Regions from separate parts of the Homo sapiens genome. Here regions 2, 3 and 4 are each reported to be linked to region 1. Evidence: microRNA targets listed by miRTarBase, many of them from high-throughput screens and not tested one by one. Region 1 holds a microRNA gene; each other region holds the end of a gene's coding sequence.

Region 1 (7,403 bases):
CAGTACAATAAAACAAAGGCAAACAAAATTTGAATAGTAGGGAAAGGTTTTAAATTCTTGAGATAACTAGTACAACTTGGTTTCTGTCTGTTGGCATTTTGGTAATTAACTTACAAAAAGTTAGGCTAAATTTTTGAAACTAAGTCAGCATTATACACCAGTAACTTCTTACAAAATTGTCTCAATATTCCATTTAATTAAAGAGCTTATGTTCACTTCTCCCACCCTTTGTGAAAATTCTCCCAACCTGTCCCAATTCTCACCCAAATTTTAAATACCATTTACCAATCAATAGCAGTGGCAATGCAAAAGGCCCCTCTCCCTCCCAAAGCTGTATATCAAAGATATCAATACCAGATATTCTTCAATCCATTAAGTCTTCAGTAGAATGATGTGTTTAAGGTCTGAAATTATTGTAAAATGCAAAAGTGAAAACATTTGCAGCTAATGGTCCATGTGTTACATAACTCATTTACAGGTAACAGATAAAAGCTTTGGAAGCCAGTGTTCTCTCCAGGGATGCTTTCCTTCAGTAGGATTAACAATTTGACTAAAGTGTCCTTGTCATTTTTCTTTAGGGGTAAGGGCTCATTTCACCCTGAGCAACCCCAACTCAACCACACTGGGGAAACCATACCACAGGTAGCATTCACTAGTTTTAAGTAATATTTTGACATTTACTTCATGTTCTTCATTAATCAAAAGATCACTCTACGTCCCTCCCCAAACTAAATGTCACTCAACTCTACTTCCCTTAAAAGACATTATTCTGTTCATACTATTAATACTTACATGAATTCTAGAACTGCCCAACTGTTACTTTTATTATACACAAGCCTCTGACCTAAATTCAATAATTACATTCATGACTCCTTTCCTATATAGTTGTTCATCTGTTTTGAGGCAGGAAGATTGCTTGTGCCCAGAAGATGGAGGTTGCAGTGAGCCAAGATTATGCCACTGCACTCCAGCCTGGGAAAAACAGCAAGACACTGTCTCAAAAAACAAAACAAAACAAAACAAAAACAGTTTTCAAGCTTTCTGGACAGCTGGAGGTTAATAAGTAGTACTTCAGAAATATGAGCCGGGAACCATACTCTGCAGTTATTTTACATTATCTCCGATATTCTCAAACATCAAACTAAAGCTATTTTAGAGAAAGGAACCAAGTAACTCACTCAAAATTTCTCATAGGTAATGAGGAAAGCTCTGGCTGACTATAAGAAAAAAAAAATTGGATGACTAGGCTCTCATTTTGCTAAATTACCACGTTAATTATGAGCCCAACTACCACCCCTGCCAGCTTTCACTTATAAATGCTAGAAAAACACTTCACACAAAAAAATACATAAGATTACTATATTTCCTTTTAAGAGGAACGTTTCAACAAATTTTACAGGTGTCAATCAACCCTTGTTCAAATCGGGCACACATCAAATCTAGCATCATGGGTGTTTTATTTATTTGGAAGTGAATTTTAACTATCAATACAAATGCCAAGATACTACACAAAACATCCACAGGAACTTTTTTCATCTTTTTTTTTTTTGAATTGTACACAAACATTTCCTACATAATCCAACATACAACAGAGAAATGGTACATCTTTTTCTTTCAATTTGCATACAATGGAAAAACAAGTATATATATATTTTACAAAGTTTAACTAATAAGACACTAGAGCAAATTGACAGTTTAAGTCTATAGGTGAGAAATTATCTAATAAAAATAATCAATTTTTTCAGCATTAGTCACTTCCATAACCAAGTGTTATTCTGATTAATAAAACTTGCTGCCAATCAGAATTCTGGTATATACTCATACCATTACTCAACTTGTAGTACTGCTCCCCACCTTAGTTCTTCACAACTAACATAGAAAATTGTTGAAAAGTAGGGGCAAGCATTTGCAAAAACAAACAAAAAATCCCCAGCTTATTATAAGCATGAATATGTATGATGGAATTTCTTCCCAGCAATAGACTTCCAAACCATCAAGAAATCACCAGAACTAAGTTTGCCAAGTTATTTTGCCTATGTCCAACAAGAGATGCACTTATATGTCCAACAGAGGAGCTGAAAATTAAACTTAGTGTTTAGTTTGGGGGTGGGTTGGGAAATTCAGCCACCATTTTAAAATGACTGTCTTAAAAAAAAAATGACCACCAAAAATAGGTTCACTAAATTTATTTTAAAAATCATAAAACGTTTCTTACAAAAGAGCATTACATTCTGCACACTGCTCTGAACAGATGCCAGGGACATGTGGACTATTGTTACTTTTCCTCCCTGTCCCACCCCCCAAATGTTACAGTGACCACAAAGCAAGGTGTTCACAATAATTACATGGGGGGAATTTTTTAAACCACCAACAATAACGAAAAATAAAATCCACTCACTCTGCTGCTGTTTCAAAATTTCAATGTTAGTTTTTGCACGCCCTTCCCCCCCCCAACCCTGTTTGTAAGGAACTAAAACATTACATCTGGTGAACAGCAAAGATTTCACTACACCTCAAATGCAGAACACCTATGAAGCAGAGGAATGTTGGCTTTTTAAACAGAAGCAGATAAAAAAAAAAAGATGCAGGACTCCTTCAGTTCTTCACTAGTCTTAGAAAAACTTTCCAGAATACTGCTTCACACTATAAAAAAGAAAAAATATCTTGCATTAGAATCCTTCAACATCTGCATACTGCTTCACACTATAAAAGAAAAGAAAAAAAAGTGCGAATTAGAATTTTTGCTCGTAACATCTTAATCAACATCAAGACAATTTCAATGCTAAATTAAAATGATAAACACGTCCATTACAATTAGAAGAGTTCAAAAACCATTAGCAATTACAAATTAAAGCAATGTTAAGTGTCAAGAAAAATGATGAGTAGTAAATCGGACATTAGTAGAACAGAATTAAGAAAACGGAATTGAAAGTTGTTAATATTTGGTAGAAAAGACAAAGAATGCTAGTAAGGTGTGAAATGCTGCATTTTACAGCACCAATCATTTGTCCTGTAGAGGCATGGCCTGTGCCATATGGCAGACTGTGATTTGTTGTCGATTTAGTTATCTAAAAACAACAAAATCACTAGTCTTCCACACAGAACTAGGCCAACATCCAATGAATCTTCTATATTTTCTACAGGCTCTGTACAATTTTTAACAAGTGGTTTTGGCAGCAGTTTTCACCAGAGAAATGAGAAGTTTGCTTGGTTAAGGCTTCTTCCAGCAAGATTAGTATTGAATGTCTTCATTTTTAGTAAGAAAGCAGAAGAAAAATTAAGGCAAACTATTAGAATGTTTAGAAGTTAGGTCCCCAAAAGGTTGAGACACCATGGCTTCTAAAAGAAAAAAATCAATTGAGAAGAAAAGCTTTTTAAAGGTTTTAGTATGTATAAGCTAACACAAAGCTAAACTTAAACTGACCTGTTCTGCAGCAAATACTGTGCATTCTGTATCTGGTCCTGTGTTCCTGTAATGGTAATGATCCGATCTTCGGATCCTTCTAAAGGCTCATCAATTTTGATCGAAGCTCCCGACTCATGACGGATTTGTTTAATCCGCTGACCACCTTTGCCAATAATAGATCCAGCCAACTGAAAAGATTTTTTAAAAGTATGTGTTTACGATATACTTTTAACATTTACTACCTGTATTTTCAAGGAGCATGAAGTTATTAATTTTATTCATTCAGAATCTTAACTGATGATCTAACGCTCCCTAAACCTGTCAAGGTTTGAGTTATAATGTATTTATGTCACACTTACTAATGTTTCCCTTAGTTAGTTAAGGGCTCAAAACCTACTTAACTACTTTTATTAATAGCACTGATCACTTGACAAGACTCAAACAGCTGAAAACCCAGCTCACTAAAGCCCATTAACATAACCTCAATCCTAAATGTGTATTTTTGTTAAAACCTTCTGAATTAAAAAATATACAGAAAGGAGGAATAATCATAAAAGTGATAAAATGTTCCTGGTAGTATTAAAGATACTTACATCTTTGGGAATAGTTACTTGTGTAGTAATAATAGGTCCACCAAGATCACCATATGAGCCACGACCCCCTGCATAGGAATAATCTGATTTAAATAATGAGCAGTAAGTTCATTTAAAAAGTATGAAATTAATGTTTGACTTCACAAAGGAGAGAACTTACCATATCCGGAGCCACCCTAAAAACAGAAAGAAAAAAATAGAAAATTACTTTGCCGTTGTAATTACTACCGGTACTTTAAAAAAATTCATTTAATAAAATGGAGTCTTGCTATGTTGCCCAGGCTGGTCTCAAACTCTCGGGCTCAAGTGATCCTCCTGCCTCAGACTCTTTTGTAGTTGGGATTATGAGTGAGCACCACTGCACCCAGCTTCACTATTCAAGTATTTTAATCTCATAAAATCCCTCTTCAGGAAACCAAAGTCCTCCTGTATCCTATTTTCAGTAAGTATCCTCAGGGGAATAAAAAACTTACTGGAGAGCAGGTAAGCATCTTAAATTATCACTGATATACACACGAACAACTATGATACTCAACCTGTGGTTCATAAGCCATCTGCCATTCTGATGGGCTCCATGTATCTATTGCAGAGTCCCAAGTTTCATCAGCACTGAAACCAACCTGTTAGAGATAAAAACATTAACATGAACCCGCATTGTATTTTGTTATAGAGCTGTTTTTAATATGCCTAATTTGCATGTTACATTAAAACAAAAGAGGGTACATATATAGGCAGCAATTTTGTAATCGAGGGGAACAAAGCTCAATAAAGTCGTAATCCTCCAGCAGCAAATAACAGAATTATTTAACTAGTAATCCAAACAAAATTTACTTGTAAGAAAAACTTTTTAATCACTATAACCTTCAACAAAACGTGAACTACATTGTGACAACCCTCACATACCCAACACACTGGTAATAAACCAAAGTTCTTACCATGCCGTCGTAACGGTCTCCAGGTCTCCCTCTTCTGTCATAGGCCATGAGGTCTCTGCAAGCATAGTACTTGTTGTAATCTAAACGTGCTTACATGCCACACATATCAAATCAAAGTCTACCTTGTCTACCACTAAGTGCAGCCTCTTGCAGGTTAATAATTCATAGATGGGGGAAGAAAAAACAACAACAACAAAAAAAACAACTTACCCCCCTCTAGGTGGTGGTGGTGGAGGAAGAGGAAGATTCCGAGCTCTGCTACCACCCCGGCCGCCTCGTCCGGGAGGAGGGGGAGGTGGTCCTCGACGAGGGCTCATATCATCATAATCTCTTCTAGATGGAGGCATGGGACGCCCACCCCGACCAGGAGGCATTCTGTCAAAACCACCTCTTCCCCGCATGGGAAATCCCACTGGGCGTCCGCGACGGTCATCAAACATCATTGTAAAACCACCATAATCATAGGTTTCATCGTAAAAATTGGGATCATAAGGCTGTGCACGTCCTTTGATGGGAGACTAAAAACAGAGATGGAACAAACTTACAGACTGAAGAAAAAGAGTCCTGCTTCATACCAATCCTTCTAACATCATCATCAAACAAAATGTAAGTCATTCCCCCATCAGGAGGTACTAGAGACAGAAACAGGAATTATGTCAACGCTAAAAGTAGCAAAGTAAAGATTCCAAAGAAATCCAATACTTTTGGCAAATGCTAAACAAAAGTGAGTTCTATTGCCTATACAGGGAGAAGTAATAGCTTGCTCTTACACTTAGATCGTAAGAAACCACAAAGCCCTCCCATTTTACACATGACAAACTACAATGCACATTTCACAACAAGGGCTGAAGAGATCAGTCTTGGCAAGCCTGTAATCCATACTGAGGCACCTGAGATAGGAAGCCCTGCAGCATAGTTACAAAGACACAAGCAACACTATAGGAAATTCATTCAAAGGCTCAAAGGCTATAGAAATACCACCAACAAATTACCACTCTCCACTTTTTCAAAACCATTTTTAAATTAAAGTGATGGCTGAAGCCAGGTGATAGAAAATTGCTAGGGAAAGGGCAAATAAAGACTATTAGACTAAATGCTCTGAAGCTACTTTTGCAGAAGGTTATCACTTTGTTTCATAAAATCAAATGTAAACAAAAAGTGTTCTGAAGTACCTCAGATATAAGATCAAGGATGATCTTTATGCACTCTACAACCCTATCGGGTTTTCCTCCAATAAGAACAACTCTGTCAGTGGAATGAGGACAGCATTCCTGGAAAAGCTTGATGGTGGTTTGAGTGTTCTGTAGTAAGATCATAAAAAAAAATAATAATAATTAGAAGAAAATTAGCTTTCCTAGGTTCAGTGAAAATTGCATTTGAATTCAACAATTAACCCCCCACAATATAAAAACTTCATTAATTATCACAGGGCTTTGCAATGGTATAAAAATTTTGACAAAATAACATGTCTAGCAGTGCCAGACATTTTTTGTCATTTGCGATAAGCAATCTTTGGAGGGAACTGAGAGGGGAAGCGAGAGAAGCTCACAGAAACAAGTCTATATGAAAATTTACTTTCCAGCAAAGAATACGGCAGAATTTTTTTTTTTTTACCTCTCGAAGTTCTTTGATTTTAGCACCTTTGACCCCAATAATTCCTCCTGCTAGACTCTGATGAATCAACAGCCTCAACTCGCAGTCAAAGTCACTTCCTTTATAGTGTTGGTACTGTGGAGGGAGAATTATAAAATTTTAGTCTCAAATCAACAATTCCCCAATACACACTTATCTGCTATAAGCATAACAATAATATACTGTTGCAGTGAGCAACCTGAATTTATATTTCAATAACTTTACCAGTTATGTGCTTATTATCCTCAATAGCCAGGCCCAAAAAGGACATTCTGCACCACCTTAAAAAACTATTTTATTTTCAGGTCCTGCAACACCATACCCACACTGCAGCCATTTAGCATGTCGCTGTTACCACAAAATTATTATTAACATTCAAATAACACCATAATAAAAATGACTGCAAAGCACTTTGCAAATGTAGTTAATTCCCACTGCAGCATGGAGCAGGGTCAACAGTGAGTTGTAAGACCATTCATGTATCATGTTTTTAAGCCTTTTTCTATAGAGATGGGAAAAGCACACTATGTTAAAAATATAATCGATCCTATGGGCCAGGCTCCATACTTCAGTGGGGTTCAATGGCACTATGACATACATTTAAGCATTCCACAGCATCAGATTCGAGCGGGAGCTGGCTGGTTGCAGTGGGTGATGGCAACTGCAGGCCCTGAAAGTAGAAAAATAAGAGTAATAGGTTAAGTGTCTAGCGTGATCAGGCTATTGTCGCATATATTGGTAAAGCTACTACAACATATTTTAAATCTATATTATTAAATAATGAGAAACTGCTTTATTCAACATTAAGACGATTCAAAACATAAAATATTTTTCTCT
Region 2 (7,431 bases), not on the chromosome of region 1:
AATCCTTTGAACCCGGGAGGCAGAGATTGTAGTGAGCCGAGATCGTGCCACCGCACTCCAGCCTGGGTGACAAGAGTGAGACTCCGTCTCAAAAAACAACAACAAAACCAAACAAAAAAAGTAAACCAGTTCTCAAGTGGACTTGCCACCAGGTTATATTTAATCTGGATGACCTGAGGTACTTTCAGCCTTCTGAAACCTGCATCAGATGATTTGGTAGTATCCTCAGCCACAGGCAACATAAATCCTTCTTAGAGATAGATACCCTCATTCTTGTCCTGTTCACTCCTGCAAATAATAATTTTTTTTTTTTTTGAGATGGAGATTTGCTTGTTGCCTAGGCTGGAGTGCAATGGTATGCAATCTTGAATCACTGCAACCTCCTCCTCCTGGGTTCAAGTGATTCTCCTGGCTCAGCCTCCCTAGTAGCTGGGATTACAGGCGCCCGCCACCACGCCCGGCTGATTTTTTGTATTTTTAGTAGAGACGGGGTTTCATTATATTGGCCAGGCTGGTCTCAAACTTCTGACCTCATGATCTGCCCACCTTGGCCTCCGAAAGTGCTGGGATTACAGGCGTGAGCTACCGCACCCAGCCTGAGCCACCATGCCCACCGTAATTTTTCAAATATACTGTCCAGCTCACAGATAACCAGGCATAAAATGAGATACTACACAGGGCGCGGTGGCTCACGTCTGTAATCCCAGCTCTTTCAGAGGTTGAGGCGGGTGGATCACGAGGTCAGAAGTTTGAGACCAGTCTGGCCAATATGATGAAACCCCTTCTCTATTGAAAAATACAATAGCCAGGCGTGGTGGCGGGCGCCTGTAATCCAAGCTATTCAGGAGACTGAGGCAGAACTGCTTGAACCCAGGCGGCGGAGGATGCGGTGAGCTGAAATTGCGCCACTGCACTCCAGCCTGGGTGACAGACTGAGACTCTGTCTCAAAAAAGAAAAAAAAAAAGGAGATATTAGATACAGCAATAAGTAAAACGAAACAAAGACCCATGAAGACCAGAACTTTAAATTGTCAAAATATCACACCTTCAGTACAATAAAGTGCTAATTATTTACTTGAAAGTATGGTTTGGTGGCCAGGTGCGGTGGCTCACACCTGTAATCCCAGCACTTTGGGAGGCTAAGGCGAGTGGATCACGAGGTCAGAAGTTCAAGACCCACCCAACCAACATGGTAAAACCCCGTCTCTACTAAAAATACAAAATTAGCTGGGCGTGGTGGTGCATGCCTGTAATCCCACTTACTTGGGAGGCTGAGGCAGGAGAATCACTTGAACCCGGGAGACGGAAGTTGCAGTGAGCCGAGATTGCACCAGTGCATTCCAGCCTGGGCAACAAGAATGAAACTTCATCTCAAAAAAAAGAAAAAAAAAAAGTATGGTTTAGGGTGGGTTAATGTACGCTTTTTTCCAGGTGTCCAACCTTATCCAGTTTAACTGTAGCTCTGGAAGACTACAGCACTCCCTCAATCTGTTTTCAACAAAGGACTCCAGAGTAGTAGAGAAGTTTCTGTTCCTTTTTAATAGCCCATGGGCACTATTACACTCTGTTCCTTAAGAACAGTATTTTACAAACTATTTTAAAGCCATGCTATTTTCTGTTAAACAAAATTCTCACACCCATTTTTGTACCTAAAATTCCAAAATTAAAAATGCTTGAAATAAAATTGGTCATTTCAAATCTTTTTCCCTCCCCAAATAGTATGCTCTGTGTCCCCATCCTTGAGAATCATTGCTCTAAACAGTTGTTCAATAGCTTTTTCTGTGACATACTTACTTTGGCAATCAGTTTTTATTTGTAAGCAAAAAGGGTATTTTCATCACACCTCAACTTAAGGTATAACAGCCTTAAGAATGACAAATTAGGGTAAGTGTTGACCAACTCATGATGCAACAAGGATTATAAATGAAGTAACTTTGCCTTGTTTGTTGCTCTTTTTTCTTTTTTTTAATTGAGACAGAGTTTTGCTCTTGTTGCCCAGGCTGGAGTGCAATGGTGTGATCTCGGCTCACCTCAACCTCCACCTCCCAAGTTCAAGTGATTCTCCTGCCTCAGCCTTCCAAGTAGCTGGGATTACAGGAATGCACCACCACGCCCGGCTAATTTTGCATTTTTAGTAGAGATGGGATTTCTCCATGTTGGCCAGGCTGGTCTTGAACTCCCATTCTCAGGTGATCTGCCCGCCTCGGCCTCCCAAAGTGCTGGGATTACAGGCATGGGCCACCGTGCCCAGCCTGTGTGCTTTTTCCCAAATGTTTCTTCATGCTTTAGTGCAAAGGCCAGCACACTTTTCTGTAAAAGGACACAGAGTAAGTATTTTCAGCTCTGTGGCCCATGCTTTGGTCTTTGTAGCACCTACTCTACTCAAGTCTGGAGTTAGTGTGAAAACTGCCACAGACAAATGAATAGGTGTAGCAGTGTTTCTACAAAACTTTACAAAAATAGGCCAGTTTTTGTATGACCCTGCTATATTAACATACAAAACATACTGAATACAGATTCACAGAAAGGCATTACCAAATTCATTTGTCATTCATCTTTTATTTCCTTAATCAAACAAAGGTACAAATTCTAATAAGAAAAAGTGAGATCTTTATGTTAACAAGGGGCTATTCATATTGGAAAGCTGAGAATCACTACTTGGGACACAAAAGTTTGGGTCTCCAGGTCTGACGAAGACTACTATAAAGAAACCTGCTCTAACATTGTAAAGTGCATAGTCTATGCCCTAAGCTGTGCTAAATACTTTCTTTACATGGATGATTTCTTGCATTTGAAAACAAAACCCAATATGAACCTACTATTAACCTCGATTTTACAGGTAAGCAAGCCATGTTTCAGCAAGTTTAGTAATCTGGCAAGGCTGACATAACCAAATTAGTGGCAGAGAAGAAACCAAACTACAGAGCTACAACCACGCAGTCAGTCCTTTACTATGCTAGCCAACCAATCCTCCATGGTAAGAAGATTCACCAGGTTTGAAAGATTGGCTTAAATCCTTTTTTTTTTTTGAGACATAGTCTTAACTCTGTTGCCAGGCTGGAGTGCAATGGCACAATCTCGGCTCACTGCAACCTCCGCCTCATGGTTTCAGGTTGATTCTCCCGCCTCAGCCTTCCAAGTAGCTGAGATTACAGGCGCCCGCCACTACGCCCAGCTAATTTTTGTATTTTAGTAGAGATGGGGTTTCACCATGTTGGTCAAGCTGGTCTCAAACTCCAGACCTCGGGTGATCTGCCCCTCAGCCTTCCAAAGTGCTGGGATTACAGGCGTGCGCCACCCGCTGGCTTAAATTCTTGTACTCTCTGATGGTCTTCCCCTTTGGAAGATCTTAACAATTATCACTGCCTTAGGAGCTCTGATCTTCCTTTTAACTTCTGACCCAAGGATGGACACTTACTTTTTCCTCTTAAGCTTAAGACTTTATCAAGGATAATAACTGGAATTAAAATAGAGAAAAAAATTAGCTAGCTCACCAGATATTCTGAAAACACTGTTCCTGAGAAACCCTTATACGTTTTTATAGGTTGACGTCTTCCTTGGTCTATAATTTCCATGGGACAAAGACATTTCTCTACCTGGGAGTGCCCTTAAATTCAAGCTCTGGAAATCAAGGTCTAGGGAAAAATTCATTCACCAGTCTGAGACCTACCTTCCAGGTCCCCATTTTCTGTCCCAGTTGTCTTTTCTCTAGATTATAAACACTAAACAAACATGTGTGGTCTCTTTAGAGGGGATCCCAAAACCCAGCCCTGGTGGTTTGGTCTTACCTTGTGGCCTCAGAGGGCTACCTTATCATTATATGATAGCCTAACAACAATGTGGTATAGTGGGGCGGGTGGTGAGCAGGTGTCATTTTCCTTAGAGAAACCTACTCTACTTCCCAGCCAGGAGCCACTTAGTTGGAATGGGGACTGACACTTTATAGTTAAGTGAGCACATCACACTGATCTCTAAAACAAGACTTCAGTGGGGCAGCATTCCCCATTACCAGTCCAGCCTCCACAGCTTCTGATGGCTCCCACAGCTGCCCTTTCTTTATTTTGGTGTGACTAGCCCACTGCAGAGCCATTCCCATTACAGCCACTGCTATGTTCCTCTTTTAGGAACAAGTGACTACCCTGAAAAAAGAAGAGATGAAACAAATCACCCTTCAAATACAAAGTAAAATCATTCTTTAATTATTAAAAAAAAATCACTGTTGGGCTTTTTTTTTTAAAGGTCCATAAATTTTCAATGCAATGTTGAACTGGGGAAATGGTTATAGCAGCTCTCACATAAGTTATTTGAATTAATAAACATTATCACAGTATTAAGAAGGCAAGGTAAACAAATAGCTTAAGTATTTTATTTGTTTGCAACTAAGCTTGTTAACACTATATAATGAAAATGTACAAAGAATAATGTTGCAGTTTTTGGTTAGATTTAAGTCAAAGACATTCATTAATAAGGAATCTTCGAATGTGAATATTCCAGAAATTTCTCTAAGCCATCTGATCACAACAACTGTCTCTGAATATTACCTTACTTTGGAAGGTATTGGCATACATTTGAATTAAACTCAGAATTTTTCAAAATAAGCCCTAATTAAAAAAACTATTCTATATTCAAAGTAAAACAATATTAATAGAACTTTCCTTTCCAGAAACAATGAAGGAAACAAGGCATTTTGTAAAATGTGGTCCTGAACAAGTCACAGTAAAAAATAAATGTATACTTAACTTCCACCTCCTCAAAACAGAGGCTACTTTCTGTTCCTCAGCCTTGGAAACAAGGTGAAGAACAGCCTATATGCGACTTCGGGCAGGGGGTTGCCAAAACAAAGCTGAAGCAGTTGACCATGGACACCTCAAAAGAATTTGGGAGAACCCGACCAAAGGATCCAAATTCTATGTTTTTTTTTTTTTTTTGAGACGAAGTCTCGTTTTGTTGCCCAGGCTGGAGTGCAGTGGCATGATCTGTGCTCACTGCAACCGCCACCTCCAGGGTTCAAGTGATTCTCCTGCCTCAGCCTCCCAAGCAGCTGGGATTACAGACGCCTGCCACCACGCCCGGCTAACTTTGTTGTATTTTTAGTAGAGATGGGGTTTCACCATATTGGCCAGGGTGGTCTCGAACTCCTGACCTCAAGTGATCCGCATGCCTCGGACTCCCAAAGTGCTGGGATTACAGGCGTGAGCCACTGCGCCCAGCCCAAATTATATTTTTTAATAACTAATACAAAGGTGAAGTGGCTCCTCCCAAGTAGCAGTGCTGCCGGGGCCTGGCCCAGGCCTAGCCCTGGGCTCACCTCTCATGCTCCCAAGCCAACCCTGATGCTCCTGGCTCCAGGGTAGACCTTTTCCCTTTAGAGGTTCAGTGTCCAGGGAGCTCTATGATAATTGTGTGAATGAGGTGAGCGCTGACTCCATGTGAGTATTTTAAGGCTTGGAGTCAAAGAATTAACCTAACATGCCCAGGCAGAGTCCATGTGTCAATGGCCCGTCTCCAGTTTGTTCTAATTTCTCACCACGTGTCTGTAGATATAGGACCGCAGACCTTCGCTTTATCATCATAATCACATCTAATGTCCATCCTAACTTACGATTCATATTCTGTGCCTGGAAACAGTCCCTGTATTTAACAATACCTACACATAAAAACAATCCACTGTTACAACTTGTATGGTCACAAAACATTAATGATCTTCTTTAGACCAAGCAAATGTTTTTTTACCATAATTGTCGTGCACCAAATTCACAGCCAGAATCCCCAAGATCAAAAAAAAATTTTTGCACAATACAAATAATAACTTAAAATACACATACACACATATACACACACTCTCACACGCACTTCTTACAGAACTGTGCTTGGGGAAACTCCATTTGTTGAATGCCACTGAAGGCATATTTTGCTAAACTGCTGCTCCAGGTATTTTTGTTTGGAAAATCTATCACAGTAGGGCACAGCTGTTTATTGGATGAGCAGAAAAGAAAGATATGCTTGTGGCAACCAGAAAGTTTTACGGTCTTTCAAGTTGTATAAAATGGACCTGCAGAAACGTTTAAGTGTTCTCAGGATGCAAAGTTGGAGCTGAAATGTGACATCAAACCAGTTGCAAAAAGTGTACAGCAGCCATCTCTTGAGGTCAAACCTGGTACCCAGATATGTGACAAAGCTTCATGACACATCTGTAAATTAAGAATAAAAAACAAAAAGGGTAAGAATACTAAAAACTGTAGTGTCATGCTTTAAAAATTTTCACTAACAGTAAATGTGAGAAATAGCATGAACGATGACTCACCACTTAAAAGATACTAAAGATCAAGAATTTAAGGAACCTGACTGAAATTCAGTTAGATATACAACTGTTAATATTTTATGCTTTGAATATCTGGTAGTTGCAAATTATTTAGAATAAGAAATCCTGACCACACTTGATAAACTAACTTAAGGAATCAACTTTCATAAATTAACAACTGAAACTATCTTTCTGGAGAAAAGACAGGTAACAAATTGGTGCTCAAGTCAGACTACCTAGATTTTAATCCTAGCTGAACCACTAGCTGTATAAGCTTGGGCAAATTATTTAACCTCTTTAAATGCTATCTTTACCAGTAAAATGGAGCTAATAATAGTACTCCCTCATAGGGTCACTGTGAGGCTTATATAAGCTTTGGTGTGGATTTAATACTCTTAGCATAGTGCTGGGCACATTTTACTTCACAGGGACTTTTTACTCTGAGGAGAGAAGTTTCAGTGTAGAAATTTTGCTCTTGAAACTTAGAAAATTCAAAGAAAATGTGGCAATACTTACAGCTTGTTGGCCTTGTCCCATACCGTCGCATAATCTGATCATGTGTGAATTTCACAAAAGATTCATATTGTTCTGTGAGAAGACAGTACATACTTATCCTCAGCAACTCTCCCTCAATTTTTAAGAATCAAGCGTCAGGATCACAAATAGCTTCCCAGTTTGAATTCTTCACCCTCTCAGGCCCTCTTTATAAAGGTCCTTGTATTAAAGTCCAGTGACCTTATATAAAGGTCACTGAGATCTGTTCCTCTTAGAACCCAGAGCCAAATCCTTGGCTTCTAGAATGGGTCACTGATGGTATATAATGGTATTTTCCTGATAACCTCTCCCCCGTGACATAACTCTATCTCCTATTAATAGCTCACTACCATAGCCAGGAAATTTCAGCCCATCTCCCATGGGACATGAATCTTTGAAACTCTTTCCTTGTTATAAATTTCAACACACATTGAGTGAAAAACATGAGTGGAAGAAGTGTGGGATGGCTAGAAAGCTAAGTGAAAATCTATACCATCTAACTGCAAACAGTTCCACAGAAGTACCACCTTTTAAGGGGAAACTGAGTAGAAAGGAAGAAGGTAGCCTGACATCTGTGAACAAAGAAGTGACTCAGA
Region 3 (7,431 bases), not on the chromosome of region 1:
TTGGCTCCCAAATACCTTACAGGCAGAATTTTCTTCTGTGGTTATACTAGATTACACTTAACTCTTAGAATATCAAACCACAGCACTTTTTTATATTGGATGGACAGTAAGACAGATTTCTAATAGAATTTTACTTGACAATGACTAAGAATACTGATCAAAATTTATAAGCTTCCAGAAGTATTTTTAATTAAATTACACCTTTTAGTATGTTTTCTTTTGACTAGCTCTTAAATTCATGCTTAGTTTAAAATTTTTTAAATGATAACTAACGGCCATTCCCCTAGATATTTTTAAAATTCTCAGTTATAAAGCAAAGTTTAACAAATCAAAAATCAAGATTTTCATGAGTTTTTAAAATAAAATCCTGCCATTCAACAAAGCCATTAAAAAATATCTTTTGAAAAATCACAGCATCTAATTTTAGCCCCCTCAAATCACATATTCCTAATCACAACACCCCTCAGAGTGGTCAGGTATCCTCTGTTTAAATGCTAACAGAGGCTGAAAGTTTATAACTGTGATATCCACTCCACTATTACATATTATTTGTACTTCATCTTCTTTATATTTAGTCAAAACCCACTGAAAACTCTGCTTATTTTTCCTAGTTCTATCCTGAGAGCTAGAATAAATCAGTCTTAGCTTTCATTTTAATAGTGTTTCTAAGTCTTGTTTTAAAATCTTAGTTTCAGATACATTTTTAGAAATCTACTATGACTCCAGTAAAATGGAAATGCAAAATATTATTCTCTTCCTACTTATGTTTTCATTGAACCAAAACATTGCTGGCTAATGAGTGGCTGGTACAATAAAGCCTTGGTTGAATTTCCAGCCCATGCTGGACACCCTGGGGTTCTCCTGCACTGCACTTATCACATTGGAATTTGTCTTTTCTTCTAGATGCCAGCTTCATGAAATCAAGAGTTTTGTCTATTACATTCATTGTTATATCCTTAGTATGATGCCTGCCTCAGAGTGACAAATATTTTTCAAATAATGATTAAATACATGCACTTATGATTGATTCATGGACATATGATTACATGCATAACTGAATACATATGTAAATAGACTCTGGAGTCTATGCATTATGAAGATACCATTCAATTTTCACGTTTCTATTTTAAAATCCATGCTACAAGAGCCTAAGAATTATTTTTCTGCTTTCTTTCTGGGACCTGGTCAGTAAATCTCAGTGTCCTGGGAGAGGAGGTTGTCCAAGGGCATGACTCTTTTCTTGGTTCTTATTTTCAGGTTTCTCATTAAGCTGTGAGGAGACAGTGTAAAACCAAAGATGGCCCTCAGCAGTGTAAAATCTATAACCTAGTCCTCCAGGTGCCGTCAAAGAGGCATGTGGCTTACATTGTTGAATGAGGAAGCAGCAGCCGTGATTGTGTACCCTCATGGGACTAAGACAGATATTTGCTAAACCTGATAGATTTTCAGAATCATGCTTGCCATAATTCTATAAGATGATCAAGGTCAGTGGACATCCATGTGTCCTTTGAGTAAAAGGTATACTTGTCCCAGAGGGTAATTTCATTTTGATGTATTTTGAGCATAATATCTGGGGAAGATTTTTGCAACTGCGTGACAAAATTATTGACAGTAGTAGGCAGAAAGTTCAGGGACAGGACTGCCGCTATGGCCCAAAACTTAGAGAGACAAGAGATAATGGATGACTGGGGACACAGAAAAGGGTAGGGTCCAAGTCGATCTGACAGACCTGGCAGAGAAGGACCTGTAGGACTTCTAATCAGCTGAGTATGAGATTCAGAGTGAAAGGAGTTGAGAGATTCAAAGGTGGTTCAATTAAGATGCAGGCAGAAGCCATTTTATATTAAATAAGTGTTAAAGATTAATCAGAAAGCTAATTTATTAGATGTTTTTCTACTTCTTTTCCTAAAATGAATATAATTCATTTAAATAGAACAATTAGTAGTTTTATTTGATGGTTATGATGAGCCATTTTAACAAAGTCCCATTTTTAAATAGCATAATTGAATAAAATATGCTGTTCTCAGTGATTTCATTAGCTACTCCTTCTGGAAGGAAGACAAGCTGCTCAGACCCCCATACTACACTGAAGTTACACCTTCCCGGAAGTAGCCTGCCCTAATTAAATATCACTAGGCAACCTACTGAGTGTTAGTGTTACAAACAGCCTTGTAAAGTGGTGTAAGCATCACAGAGGAAAGAACTCTCCTTTACTTGAAATACAAACATAGCATAGATAAGTCTTGGGGCTATGGTAGGTTTCATGCTTCATGGAAGGCAACATAAACAATTACAGGAACTCTTGGTCATGAATTTTATGACACAGGTAATAGAAAATGCTAAGTGCAATTGTAGTAATGCCATAACAGATCTAAGCCTAGCAATGGTGGAAACAAAAAAATAAATGGAACTTCTCTGTTTAACCTGTCTTTGCCTACTGGTGTTCACTAGACATATACAAATGATCAGCATGCTTTTAAAATGTTTGCTCTTTTCTAAACCTATGCAATATACATGAATATAGTATACATACTTGCATGTGTATATAAATAAATGTCTATATATGTGTGTAAATGTATATGCGTATATACATACATACTTGTGCATGAACGGATGGGGTATTTCTGACATCACATACAAGCAACAGTGTTCATCAGTGTTAACCGTATTTATTTTTGGGAAGTGGGACACAACACCAGAACAAAGGGATGCCTTGACTGTGGATGTGATACTCATCTGTGGTATTAAAACATTTTATAAAAAGCATGTGCCATTTTTATAATTTAAAAAAACCCCTAAATATTATTAATAAAATTGACATGTAATAAAATAAAGATGCTGTGTCATTTTTTAAAGCCATGAATATTATAAGGGGTCTAGTAAATAAATAAATTTCAGAAATTCGTTAGGCAAAGGGACTCTCACTAGGTCCAGATGAAAATGAAGTGATGTTGAGTAGCTCCCAGCACAGGCAGATCTGCCAAAGCAGCCATTCTGAAAGGATAAGGAGCAACAGGTATGTACGGCTCTCCATCAGTCATTACTAATTTCCATCACTGTGCATTTGCCAGCTAAATTATGTTTCAAAACTTGCACTGGTTTTTGGTTATCACATCTACAGAGGAAACATAAGCTCTGAAAGCAAAATTCCTAGTCATGGTATTTATTCCATTCTTGGCTTACTAATCTTCTCTCTTATTCTTTATGAAGTCCTTGAATACGATAAAGCACAGTTTAACTGTGTTCTATTTTGTTAAATGCACAATATTAAAATATAAGCTTGCAAAAATGACTACCTTTCAGGTTACAGAATGTTGTCTTTTAATAACTCTTCATTTTCCATTCCTCTATCAACCACATCTAAAAATGGAATCTCAAAGCAGTCAGTGCCATGACACAAAGAAACAAACACAGAGGAGTCAGCCAAGCTAGCTGCCTCTTCAGTGCTGTCTCAGTAGGCTTTGTAGAAATGATATTTCTATAGGTACATATTTTTATGTCTGTTAAAGTTACATGGCACTTCAGACCAGGACTAGATCACTTGCTTTCCTGATGTCCTAATAGTAGGGATACAATATACTTAAGCTGAGATGGAAACTCCTAGACCATAAGGCCTTAGCTCTTTCCAAAGCCCAGGACCAATTTTTAAAACATGCTACAGGAGGTGGTTTAATGTTGAAGCCATTAAACATGTGGTTATTCTGCTCACTTTATTTTGGAAATCCCAAGTCCTAGTGGTACTTGCTTTTTTCAAAGCGATATATCAAATATTGGTCTCCATGAATAACACAGGACTCTAATGCCTTTTTTTTTTTTGGTTTGAAAAAATTTCCAAATGCATCAGGAATCTTACAGTACCAACTCATCATTTTTCATAACACAGATTTATGTCTTCAATTGGAGCTATTTAGAAATTGGCCCATAGCCACCTGTACCCTAAATTTTCTCTGGGCTACTTGGAAGTATTTAGAGAAATGTGAGATGGTAGTTGATGAAAACAGAGTTCTTCATCCCAACAGTAACAGCTAGATAACTGACTGCTTGGCCAAACATTTGACTCAATCCAGGGAATGGAAGATGCCATTCAAAGCCAGATTCCAGTTTGTGTTAAGGATTATATTTCTGTCATCACATTTCCTTGACAGTCCCGCCAACTAAAAATCCCCCAGCAAAAGCCCAGTGATTAAATTCTCCTGGAGCATATTTTTCCAGCTTCTGGAAACAATCTGCTGCAGTGTCTCCTGTAATATCCAAAGGATAGTTCCATTTCTGAGGCTGATATATGGAAGTAGATTACTCACAACCCAATCCATCCTCCCACCAACAATTTGATTTTGAAATGACTATGGAAAGACTGTGGTAATAAAATCCCCATCCACTGAAAGGCTGTTCCTGTTTAATATAGCACGTCATAGCCGCACTTTCAAAATGATGATATGTTACCGAAATGTGACTCAGATAAGCAAAATGTCACCATTAGACTTTTAAATTAAATGTAGAGACACTATCATTCATGGTCATATGTAGAAACATTAGGGAAGCACTATGCTATGTCCAAGGACAAAATGAAAATAAGCTCAGGAGACGTCAGATTTCGCCAAAAGTAAAATCCTTGGACACCTACTTTTATTTTTGACTTACCCCCAAGTCAAGTAGATATTTGGACAGAAAGACAGACATTTTCTTCTGATATTTTAGGGATCACAGAGTCCCTAAGAGAGGTACCTGTAAGTACCATTCGATCCGTGGCAGGTTTAGATGTTACAATTCTAACTATCTGACAGACATTTCTGGCTAGATTCCAATGGTGGTTTGCACTAAGGACTTTCTGAAAAGGGAAAAATAAAGTAGATAAAATAATATATTAGACTACCCCATACATAGAAAATGGGGTTATTAAGTACGACCTTTGGACCTGACAAATAATAGTTGAAGCATCCTTCTGAATGATCCAGGCATCCCATAAATCTGGCAGTGGAACTCATACAACAAGCCTTTGTTCTTGGGTCAAGGATTACTTGGAGTAATGAAAACCAAAAACCTAAAAGAAAGACCTAAAATGGGGCTCCTCTCACCACTGTATCCAACAGTCTATAGTTATTAGCCTCTGTGCAACATTCCAATGACTGTTTCCTATTTCAGTGACATATGTTGACATATGTTGCTACTTTTGCTTTTGCTGTTTTTTTTTTCCAAGTCAATTAGGGTGCTTTCTATTATCATTCAACAAAGTTTAGAAGTAAACATTGTTAGAGTGCTCCATTTCCTGTAACCACAGTTCCCACACAGGATTATTTGCTCTGCAATTTAAACAGCACTTAAAATTGAGTGGTTCTGCAAACTAGCTGTGGGCCTCTGTTTAATCCTTTGCTCATCTTCTATTGCAGCAAAAGGCAAAGATGGCTACACATAGGCAGTACGGAGCTGTACAGACAGCCCAAGCTGAACCAGTCCTGCATGGCTATTGGCTACAGCCCAGCAGCCTGGGCTGACCCCTGGGTTACCTCTCTGAGGTACCTCCAAGCACAGACATCTCCCATGCCACCTCACCATTCCTCAGAGATATAGCACACAAGTTGACATTATCCATGTGGCACTTCCCAGCTCCTATATAATGAAACGGAGGGTTGGCGGGTGAGGGGGACATGCAGAGAGAGTCACTAAATAGTCTTGATATATTTAGTCTTAGAAATGGAAGTGGTTTTACAGTTATATTTCTGCAGGACATTCAGAAGGTTTTAGAAGGCCTTCAGACAATCTTGTGGTCTTCCAAGACTGAATGTAAAGAGAAGAGATAATATTTTTCTTTAAGTTGATGGGTAGTTACAGTAGAATTGTATGGTACAGGGAAAAAAACCAATGCATAGGGGGAGGATGGAGCAGTGCCATTTATACGAACATCCTTTGAATCTTTAAAATAAATTATACAGGTGAACACAGAAGTTCATGCTACTTGCTGGAAGCAATAAGGATCAAATTTTGTGGAACTCGTACTGTATTCCACAAATCTCCAGGTATCCTGCCTCCTTCTCAATGGGCTATCATGTTCTGTTGTACATCTTGGTAGCCCTTAAAAGCTAGTGGCATGGTCTCAGGTAGATTCTTGCAGGAGAGAGACAGATATATGAATTCCATCAGCTTCTTCCAGGGGAGCTGCCCAATTGCAGGGAGGGCAGATGTGATACGCTTGCTCATGTCCTCTTTGCCCGAATACCAGGGTCAAACAGCAGTTTCCAGGTCCTCATGGCCAATGACCTTATAGTTCTGACGGCTTTCTAGGTAAGCAGCCAAGTCTGGGTCCCCAGCCTGCTGTGCTCTTTCTTGAGGTGTCTTACCCTATACGAAAATAGTGAGAAAAAAAAAAAGAGAGAGAGAGATAGACACAAGCGCTAGTCGTGAAATACAAAAACAAAAAACAAAACAAAACAAAAATCACAGAAACAGAACTACGCAAGGATACCTGCTAGTAAGGATCCTTTCACATTTGGTGTTTTAGAGTTTACAAGACACTTTCAAATCTATTGTCTTATATGAGCATTAAATTGAACATGTGCGATTGGTAAATGAAAGGGAAAGAGTTTATCACTTTTGACGGGTGGGGTTTATACTAGGGAAACAGAAGTTCACAGAGGTTAACAGTATACAGAAGGAAACAGTGGGGTAAAGCGAGTTTTGAAACCCAGAGCCTTTCTGGAAGATGGGGAGGTAGAAATTACTGAATTTAAAAAATAGGGAGGCAGGCATTTAGATTTCTAGTTTAGGACTCTTTCTATTATTCTAAACTTGGGAAATCAACATACAGAAACTAAAAGGAAGGGATAGTCATAAAAAAATTGAAAGGTTTTCTTTATTGGTTTCAGACTTGGGCTATTTCATCTCTCTAAAAACTAAGCTAGTTTCTCAATACAAAAGTGGTAGATATTGATTAAAGAAATCTTGGAAAGCTTGAAAAGCACAAAGAAGAAAAGGAATATCCCTAATCATTCCACCAAACTAAGATAACCACTACTAACCTTCCATTGATAACTAGATTTTGTCTTTTATATGCCTCTATACGTATTTTTATAAAAACAAAACCACAATTCATTTACATACTGTTTTACAACCTTTCTTAGTAATATATCATAAATTTGTCATTAATTTTTTACATCAACATGTTAAATGATCATATAATTTCTTACAGACTACTATAATGCCTTTTGTACACTTATATACACACATATACACATATATTTGTATATATATATTGCTATTTTTTAAATGAGGCCACTGAATAAGAAGTCAGCAGTAAAGGGAGAAAGAGTGTCCATTCTTTTGAATGCCTGTATATATTACTTGGCATCGCTCAAAATTTCTAATTTTTGTTGAATGATAAAGTTTTAACTATTTAAAAAGTTATGTTAAGTTCCAAAGGAAGGGTAGAGGCATGAT
Region 4 (7,431 bases), not on the chromosome of region 1:
CCTGGTGACAGAGCAGGACTCCGTCTCAAAAAAAAAAAAAGAAAAAGAAAAAGAAAAATTGTAGGTTGAACCATTGTAAGTCAGGGATTGTATTGGAGACACACACACACACACACACACATGCGCGCGCGCGCCCGCGCGCGAGTTATTGAAGGGGGAGAATTCAAAGAGACAAAGTGGCTGAAGTGGCCAAGACAAAATCTGAAACAGAGACAGAAGGACCCGAAGAGAAATTTCTGGATGCCATGATTACTCAAAGTCCTTCTGTCTTCTGCCCTCAATTCCCACCGCTCAGCAATGACCCAATGATACTTTCCTACTCAACATTGCCTACTCCCTCAACAACATAAGCTTCTCCCCATCCTTATTCCACCTCTCCATCATTCTCTACCTTGGCTGATTACCACTCCCCTCCACCCTAAAGCCTGCTTACAATTTCACCTTTCTCTCAATCTCCTTCTAGCTCACATTCAGTCAAAGGAGCTCTCAAGATCTGACCTCATGCAGTCTCTTTGCCTGGTCATTTCTCTGTCCTTTTGTCCCTGTCTTTATTCTGGCTGAGCTGAGAGCAAAGAGTCAGAAATGGGGCCAGGATGGCATAGGGCCAGGAAGTCAAGCAGCTAGAATGAGCTGTGTGAGAAATAGAGAAGGGTCAGGGTACAGCAGAAGAAGAGTCAAAGAAAGGGCCTGAAGGATGGGGACAGCCTGGGAGACATGGGCAGAGGGAACTGTGGGAGTCTTGAGTGCGATTAAGACCGTTTGGTGCAATTGTTGGTCTTTCTTTCTTTCTTTCCTTCTTTCTTTCCTTCCTTCCTTCCTTCTTTCTTTCTTTCTTCTTTCTTTCTTTCCTTCCTTCCTTCTGTCTTTCTGTCTTTCTCTCTCTTTTCTTTCTCTCTCTCTCTTTTCTTTCTTGCTCTCTTTTCTTTCTCTCTCTCTTTTCTTTCTCGCTCTCTCTTTTCTTTCTCTCTCTCTTTCTTTTCTTTCTCTCTCTCTTTCTCTTTCTCTCTCAGTCACCCAGGCTGGAGTGCAATGGCACAATCGCGGCTCACTGCAACCTCAGCCTCCCAGGTTCAAGCGATTCTCTTGCCTCAGCCTCCAGAGTAGCTGGGACTACAGGCATGCACCACCACGGCTGGTGAATTTTTTATTTTTTATTTTTAGTAGAGATGGGGTTTCACCATGTTGGCCAGGCTGGTCTTGAACTCCTGGCCTCAAGTGATCCACCCACCTTGGCTTCCCAAAGTGTTGGGATTATAGGCGTGAGCCACCACACCCAGCCCAATTGTTGGTTTTCTGTATGTACCGAATAATGCTAAGAACCAGAGATGGTTCCAGGGTCAGAAAATGGGGTTAAGGAAGGGAGAAGATAGAGTAAGAGCTTTGTGAAAGTTTGAGGCAAGGGGGCGTAGATTTGGGGCTAGGATAGACATCTAAGGCTAGGTAGGAAGCTGGGTGCTTGCTTGCTAGAGATCATATAGACTCTTGGCCAACTGAGACAAAGCCAACATCAGGGGATCACATCAGGATTACGAGACTTTCAGGATATCCAGTCCCTGCTCTCATTTCTGGACAGAGGTTGTCCCTGGATATTATTAGCAGGTGAAAGCAGGTTCACAGCCCTGGCTGCCCTTTTCCCTGTCTCTCACAATTTTCTCTCAGTTCCCCCTTTCACTTATCTTAATGCCCTTTCAGTTTGTGTATCATTGACAAGGTCATTATAGACCACTGCAGATGCTGTCCTGCGGTGTGAAGCATGTGTCATACAAGTCCAGGTTGGCTGGTTTGCTTTCTTCCTCTCTCTGTTTCTCTCTTTCTGGCTTCTTTTCTCCCTCCTCCAAAATATGGATTTGGTTCAAACTAACCTAAGAAGGTAGGAGTCCTAGGCAGTTCCTCTCCCAGGGTCTTGGGATGGCAAAGCAATGGACAGATGCTTCCAGCTATTAGGAGGAACTGGAAGCATCTAGGTACAGAACTGGAGAGGGTACAGCCAAGGAGTATGTGAGGTTCAAGCTCTATGTCTAACTAAGATGCCTACTGCTAAGGACTCAGAGTCAGAGAGGAAGCTGGGAGAGAGGAGCTGGAAAGGCCCGTGGGGTGGGGAGTTCCCATTTCTATCCAGGAAAGGCAGAAAGTAAGTCTAACAGAACAGCCAAGACTTAGGCAAAAGCAAGAGCCTAAAATGGACATATAGGCCAATAAGGTTTAAGCAAAATTGCCCCACCCCTGAGGCAAGCCCTTGCCTAATCCTAGGAGTATGACAGATCTGAATCCAGCTGTTGGGAGGTTAGCCAGTGAGAAAGAAGCCTGAGGGAAAAGACTGACTTTTAAATTTCAGCCAAGGACAGTAAAAGTTAGTGATTTTTTAGAGATTCTTACCATGATTTTGGAAAACTGAGAATACTGCCTGTCATACTCAGGGAAAGCTATAGTTGGGAGGGCAGAGACTTTCAAAGCTATTGTTGAATCTTGGCTTTAAGGTACAGGTGGGGAACAGGTCCTGGTAATCTTCCAATCTCTGTAACTGTGCCTTTCCTGCCCATGCCATCCCCATGCTGTGTTCTCTGAGGACCAAGAGTTGGGAAGAGGAGGGGAAAGCCCTGCTGTGCTATCAGACCCTGCATTACATGCCCATCCTCACTGCAGCCCTGGCCACTGTCTCCTTTCTTCCTTTCTTTATTTCTTTTCTTTTTTTCTTTCTTTCTTTCGCCAGGGTCTCACTATGTTACCCAGGCTGGTCTTGAACTCCTGAACTCCTGGCCTCAAGTGATTCTCCTGCCTGGCCACTTTCTATGGTCTCAGTATCTCAGGTATGATGGGGAGCAAGGTGATGTGTAGAAACCAAAGGCCACAAGTAGCAGTCATCATTCCCACTTACAGCCCAGTCCCAGAGGACACAGATCCTGTTTTTGCCCCACACCAGCTGTGTTGGGAGGAAAATTCTGTCTGTATTTCCTCCTTCAGCTGAAAGCAGAAAGCTTGCATCTGGGCCTCTTCAGTTATCACTTGGTCCTGGGGGACAGAGTTAATATCTGGAAACTGGCTTAAATAAAAGATATCAGGGAAGGGTAGGAGTCTGTTTTTCTCATTTTCTCACTCTTCCCCCACTTCACCCTTCTAAGGCTGCGTGGGTTCTCTCTCTCTCTCTATCTCTCTCTCTCTCTCTCTCTCTCTCTCTCTCTCTCTCTCTCTCTCTCTGTGTGTGTGTGTGTGTGTGTGTGTGTGTGTGTGTGTGTGTCACCTGAGAGACTGGGTTCTGCTACCCTCTAGTGGCCAGAGCTGAAAGGACTCTCCCACCCAATCAATCGGGACCTTCAAGCCTTTGGGAATAAACGAACAGCCTATTTGATGAATGACAAAACTGAGAAGGCCTAGAGAGAAACAATGCCTTTGAGGGTCAGGGGCATAGTTGGGACTAGAACCCAGGTCTCCTGTCTCTCGGGCCAGTGGTCAGTCCACTTTCACTTCCCCACCCTCTGACTTTTGCTTCTCCTTCCTTGCTCATCCCTGGGGTGGTTAGCCCGAGTAAGAAACCCTGAAGCCAAATGATCCCTCCCGGCCCTAGTGGAGCAGCACCTGCACCTCAAATGTCAAAATCGCAAATCAGTTCACAGCGGAGATCACAGGGGTTTATTCTAAGGACCCGACTGTCCTCCGACTTTCTGAGGTTAACAATCTTGCAGGATTTTTATTGACCTGATACAGCTCCCGTAGCCTTGGTGGCACCACCATACGGTTCCCGATAGCCACCCAGGTGTCCTGTCTCCACGGTAACTGCTGCTTTGCGACCTTCGGTTTGCAGCGGTCGCGCTGCAGCCGCTGCAGTGGTTGCTGGGCGACCACGGAGAGAAAGCCGGGACTTGAGGTGGGAACCCCGGCTGGCGTCCGGTAGGGGGAGGTTCCCGGGGAAGCCCGCGGAAGGCGAGGTGCCTGGCCTGCCATGTAGGGGCTCGTTCCAAGCCGCAGACCCCACCGCCCTCCCTCTCCCCGGGGCCCATGGCGGTGGCCGTGCCCCCGGGTCGGGCCGCAGGCTCAGGCTGGGCCTGGAGGCCAGTGGCGCGGGACGCGCTTTTGGCTAGAGCTTTCCATTCATGCACCGAACTGCGGGGACGGTTCTATCTCGTAGGTGGTCTCCTAGCAGGAGGAGCGAGAGAGCCCAGCAGCGATACGGTGGTTTTCGACCCAGCTAGGGGCCAGGCCGTACGATTGGGAGCCCGGGGCAGCCCCCCGCGCAGTCACCACGACGCGGCACCCGTGGACGGGCGTTGGCTCTGCGTGGTGGGCGGCTGGGACGGGTCTCGCCGCTTGGCCACAGTGACCGCACTGGACACAGAGCGCGGTGTGTGGGAGGCGTGGACAGGGACCCCTGGTGACTGCCCCCCCGCCGGCCTCAGTAGTCACACCTGCACCCGAATCTCTGACCGAGAGCTGCAGGTGGCTGGCCGGGAGGGCGGTATCCACACTCAGCGACGCTATGGAAGCATCTACACATTAAGGCTGGACCCCAGCGCCCGCACCTATTGGTATGGCACCCTCCGCCCAAAACCTTTCACTCTCATCCACACTCTCGAAAAACAAAAGCCTAAGCAGATTTCTCAGGCAATTTATCCACCTCCTCACTCTAGCACCCTCCTTCCAGGGGAACCTACCATGTTTAAGCTAGCTGAGCTCTCTACAGTATTACCCTCCCTCTTATCCCACCTACCGCACTGCCCCATGCCTCTTCTCCATCCATCCTTGGCAAGGGCGGTGGCACTTACATTTTCCAGAAAACCCACTCAGCCCTGAATTTCTGCATGTCCACAGCTACAAGCAAGAAGGCTGCCACACAGCCTCACGCTCAGGTCACTGTGCGGCCCTGCTCCAAACTCCTGGACCCCATCCAGGTCATCAGCTATTGCTCTTTGGAGGTTGCAACTTAGCTGAACCAGAAGTAGCTGGGCATTGGAGTCATGGGAAAATTAAGGTATTAGCTCCTCACACATCTTGTTTAGGATGGGAAGAGGCTAAAATTGTGATGCCCAGGTCTCTTCGGACAGTCCTTTCTTTCTCCCCAAGGAGGAACCACCTGTTGCTCCTCATTTGATGGAACAGCTTGCAAGGCTTGTGAGCAGTGGGCAGGGGTCCCAGAAGGGGCCCCATGGACTACGGCATCACTCATGTTCTGTGGTCGGGCCCTTTGCTGTGCTGTTTGGTGGAGAAACTCTGACCAGAGCTAGAGACACCATCTGCAATGATCTCTACATCTATGATACTCGTGAGAGCCAGACTAATGGCTGAAGGGGGGGAAGGTGGGAAGATGGGGGAACCTGAAGACTACAGAAAGAGGATGGAGTGATGGGGTAGGGAGGAGGAAAAATTAGTTGACAGGAGTTAAAGGAGTACACAGAATATTAAGCATTTGAAGAGGCCTACAAATCAAGTGAGCAGAAAAACAATGGGCAAGCCCTTGGTCATGTTGAATTCTGTGAATGACAAAGTGCTACTGCCTCAATAACCACCCTCTGCCCGTATCCAACAGGCACATCTCCTCCTTTGTGGTTCCACTTCCCCTGTGCAGATCGTGGGATGAAACGCATGGGCCATCGCACCTGCCTTTGGAATGATCAGCTTTACCTGGTTGGGGGTTTTGGTGAGGATGGCAGGACAGCCAGTCCACAGGTTTGCATCCTGGACTTTATCTAAATAGTGCCAAGACACATCACTAAGCCTCGTTTTGTTTTGCTTTGTTGCAAACCTATAAAGCGTTATCACCAGAGCTATCTGCTTCACTTCAAATGCTTATTAAATTTCAATCTGAGACTCAAGATTTGTCTCTGAAATTTTTGGGGGGAGGGGGAAGGGCAGTAAATAAGTGGACATACCTTTATTTGCAAGGAAAGGATAAAATAAATATGGGTCCTACTCTCATATTATGAGTCATTAACCTGATGGAAACAAAAACCACACATCATATGCTGTTCCGTGTCTCAAAACAATTTCCACCCCCAAGTGGGAGAAAACTTCAGGCTACAGCTAAGATTCTGACCAAAACATTTAATTAACAAAAAAATATTACAATAGCAGAGAAAATAATAATAATAACAATAAAGAGAAATTAGAAGTGGGAGTCAGGGTAGAAAAAAATGCAAAGGCCTTGGTCCCTAGGAGACCAACACTCCAGCTGAGCTGGCCTTAGCCCCAGCCCCTTCTGAGTTTTCCTTGGCTGCTGGCTTCTCATCTTCTCCCATGAGACGAATGTTGTGCTTTTCCCGGAATTCATTTAGTTCTTTTCCCTTTGCCTGAAGCTGCTGTGTCAGTGTCTCAATGATCTTCTGTATCTAGAGGACAAGTGACAGGGATTATATAAGGAATTCAGGACTCCTTTCCCCCACCTGGAATGGACTATGGTTGGAGGAAGTGTTAACACATTTAACCTTACCTTTAACCAAGTAGAGGAGCCCAGACATTAAAATTATTCCTTTCTTGAACACAGTGGTTTATACACTTTAATGTACTTAGAATCACCTGGGCTGCTTATTTTTATTTTTTACAGAGACAAGTTCCTACTATGTTACCCAGGCTGGTCTCAAACTTCTGCCTCAAGCAGTCCTCCTGCCTCGGTCTCCCAAAGCGCTAGGAATACAGGCATGAGCTTATTTTTATTTTTTCATTTTTTATTTTTAATATTTTTTTTTTGAGTTGCAGCATCGCTGTGTCGCCCAGGCTGGAGTGCAGTGGTGCAATCTCAGCTCACTGCAAGCTCCGCCTCGCAGGTTCACGCCATTCTCCTGCCTTGCCCTCCCGAGTAGCTAGGACCACAGGCGCCCACCACAACGCCCAGCCAATTTTTCGTATTCTTAGTAGAGATGGGGTTTCACCATGCTAGCCAGGATGGTCTTGACCTCCTGACCTCGTGATCCGCCCGCCTCGGCCTCCCAAAGTGCTGGGATTACAGGTGTGAGTCACTGCAACCTGCCTAGCTTATTTTTAAAATGTCACTTCATGGCACTCCCAAAGGTTCTAATCCAGTGGGTCTGGGAAGCTGCATTTATAAATTAGTCCTTCAGGTGATTTTGATTCATGTATTCGTGAAACACACACTATGAGAAACATTACTCTAACCCCAATCCTCCCACCCCAATTCAGCCAAGTCACAGAGCCCACAGCAGTCAGCAATTCCTCTTGTCTAAGAGTTGCACTTAGCATAGCATAATGAGCATAGGCTATTTTATGCTGCCCTCCTTTTATCTGAGACAGGGTCTCACTCTGTCACCCAGGCTGGAGTGCAGTGAGGTGATCACAGCTCACTGAAGCCTCGACATTTTAGGCTCAGGTGAGTAGCTGGGACTACAGGCACATACCACCATACCCAGCTAATCTTTTGTATTTTTTGTAGTGATATGGTTTCACCATGTTGCCCAGGCTGGTCTCGAACTCCCGGACTCAAAGAGT

What was found. Region 1 holds the annotated microRNA hsa-miR-7-1-3p (CAACAAAUCACAGUCUGCCAUA, at 3,034-3,055, opposite strand). A microRNA usually pairs through its seed, bases 2 to 8, with sites in the 3' UTR of a target mRNA and lowers its output. Matches are read on the target gene's strand: a 7mer-m8 pairs with bases 2 to 8, a 7mer-A1 pairs with bases 2 to 7 and ends in A, and an 8mer does both.
Region 2: miRTarBase lists AKIRIN1 as a target of hsa-miR-7-1-3p. Seed matches in the 3' UTR shown: 7mer-m8 at 4,347-4,353.
Region 3: miRTarBase lists DGKI as a target of hsa-miR-7-1-3p. Seed matches in the 3' UTR shown: 7mer-A1 at 1,975-1,981 and 8mer at 322-329.
Region 4: miRTarBase lists PFDN2 as a target of hsa-miR-7-1-3p. Seed matches in the 3' UTR shown: 7mer-A1 at 6,039-6,045.

What each region holds. Positions count from the first base shown.
Region 1 is chr9:83,966,738-83,974,140 of GRCh38, forward strand. MIR7-1 (microRNA 7-1) reads right to left here and starts at 3,120; the gene lies at 3,011-3,120. HNRNPK (heterogeneous nuclear ribonucleoprotein K) reads right to left here. Exons shown (of 17, transcript NM_031263.4): 8 at 7,165-7,236; 9 at 6,549-6,662; 10 at 6,107-6,235; 11 at 5,145-5,452; 12 at 4,935-4,989; 13 at 4,536-4,619; 14 at 4,160-4,175; 15 at 4,000-4,082; 16 at 3,425-3,594; 17 at 1,346-2,703. The coding sequence ends at 2,670. It overlaps HNRNPK-AS1 (HNRNPK antisense RNA 1), which reads left to right and starts at 5,358. Exons shown (of 2, transcript NR_186535.1): 1 at 5,358-5,540.
Region 2 is chr1:39,002,805-39,010,235 of GRCh38, reverse strand. AKIRIN1 (akirin 1) reads right to left here. Exons shown (of 5, transcript NM_024595.3): 4 at 6,818-6,889; 5 at 4,177-6,191. The coding sequence ends at 6,181. Among named protein-coding and RNA genes, the nearest start is that of AKIRIN1, 15 kb to the right of the region's middle.
Region 3 is chr7:137,385,001-137,392,431 of GRCh38, forward strand. DGKI (diacylglycerol kinase iota) reads right to left here. Exons shown (of 33, transcript NM_001321708.2): 33 at 1-6,336. The coding sequence ends at 6,220. Among named protein-coding and RNA genes, the nearest start is that of PTN, 45 kb to the left of the region's middle.
Region 4 is chr1:161,094,543-161,101,973 of GRCh38, forward strand. PFDN2 (prefoldin subunit 2) reads right to left here. Exons shown (of 4, transcript NM_012394.4): 4 at 6,019-6,317. The coding sequence ends at 6,141. It overlaps KLHDC9 (kelch domain containing 9), which reads left to right and starts at 3,819. Exons shown (of 4, transcript NM_152366.5): 1 at 3,819-4,520; 2 at 4,804-4,963; 3 at 5,056-5,254; 4 at 5,519-5,804. The coding sequence starts at 3,994. The coding sequence ends at 5,682. RefSeq lists silencers at 3,953-4,132, 4,193-4,242.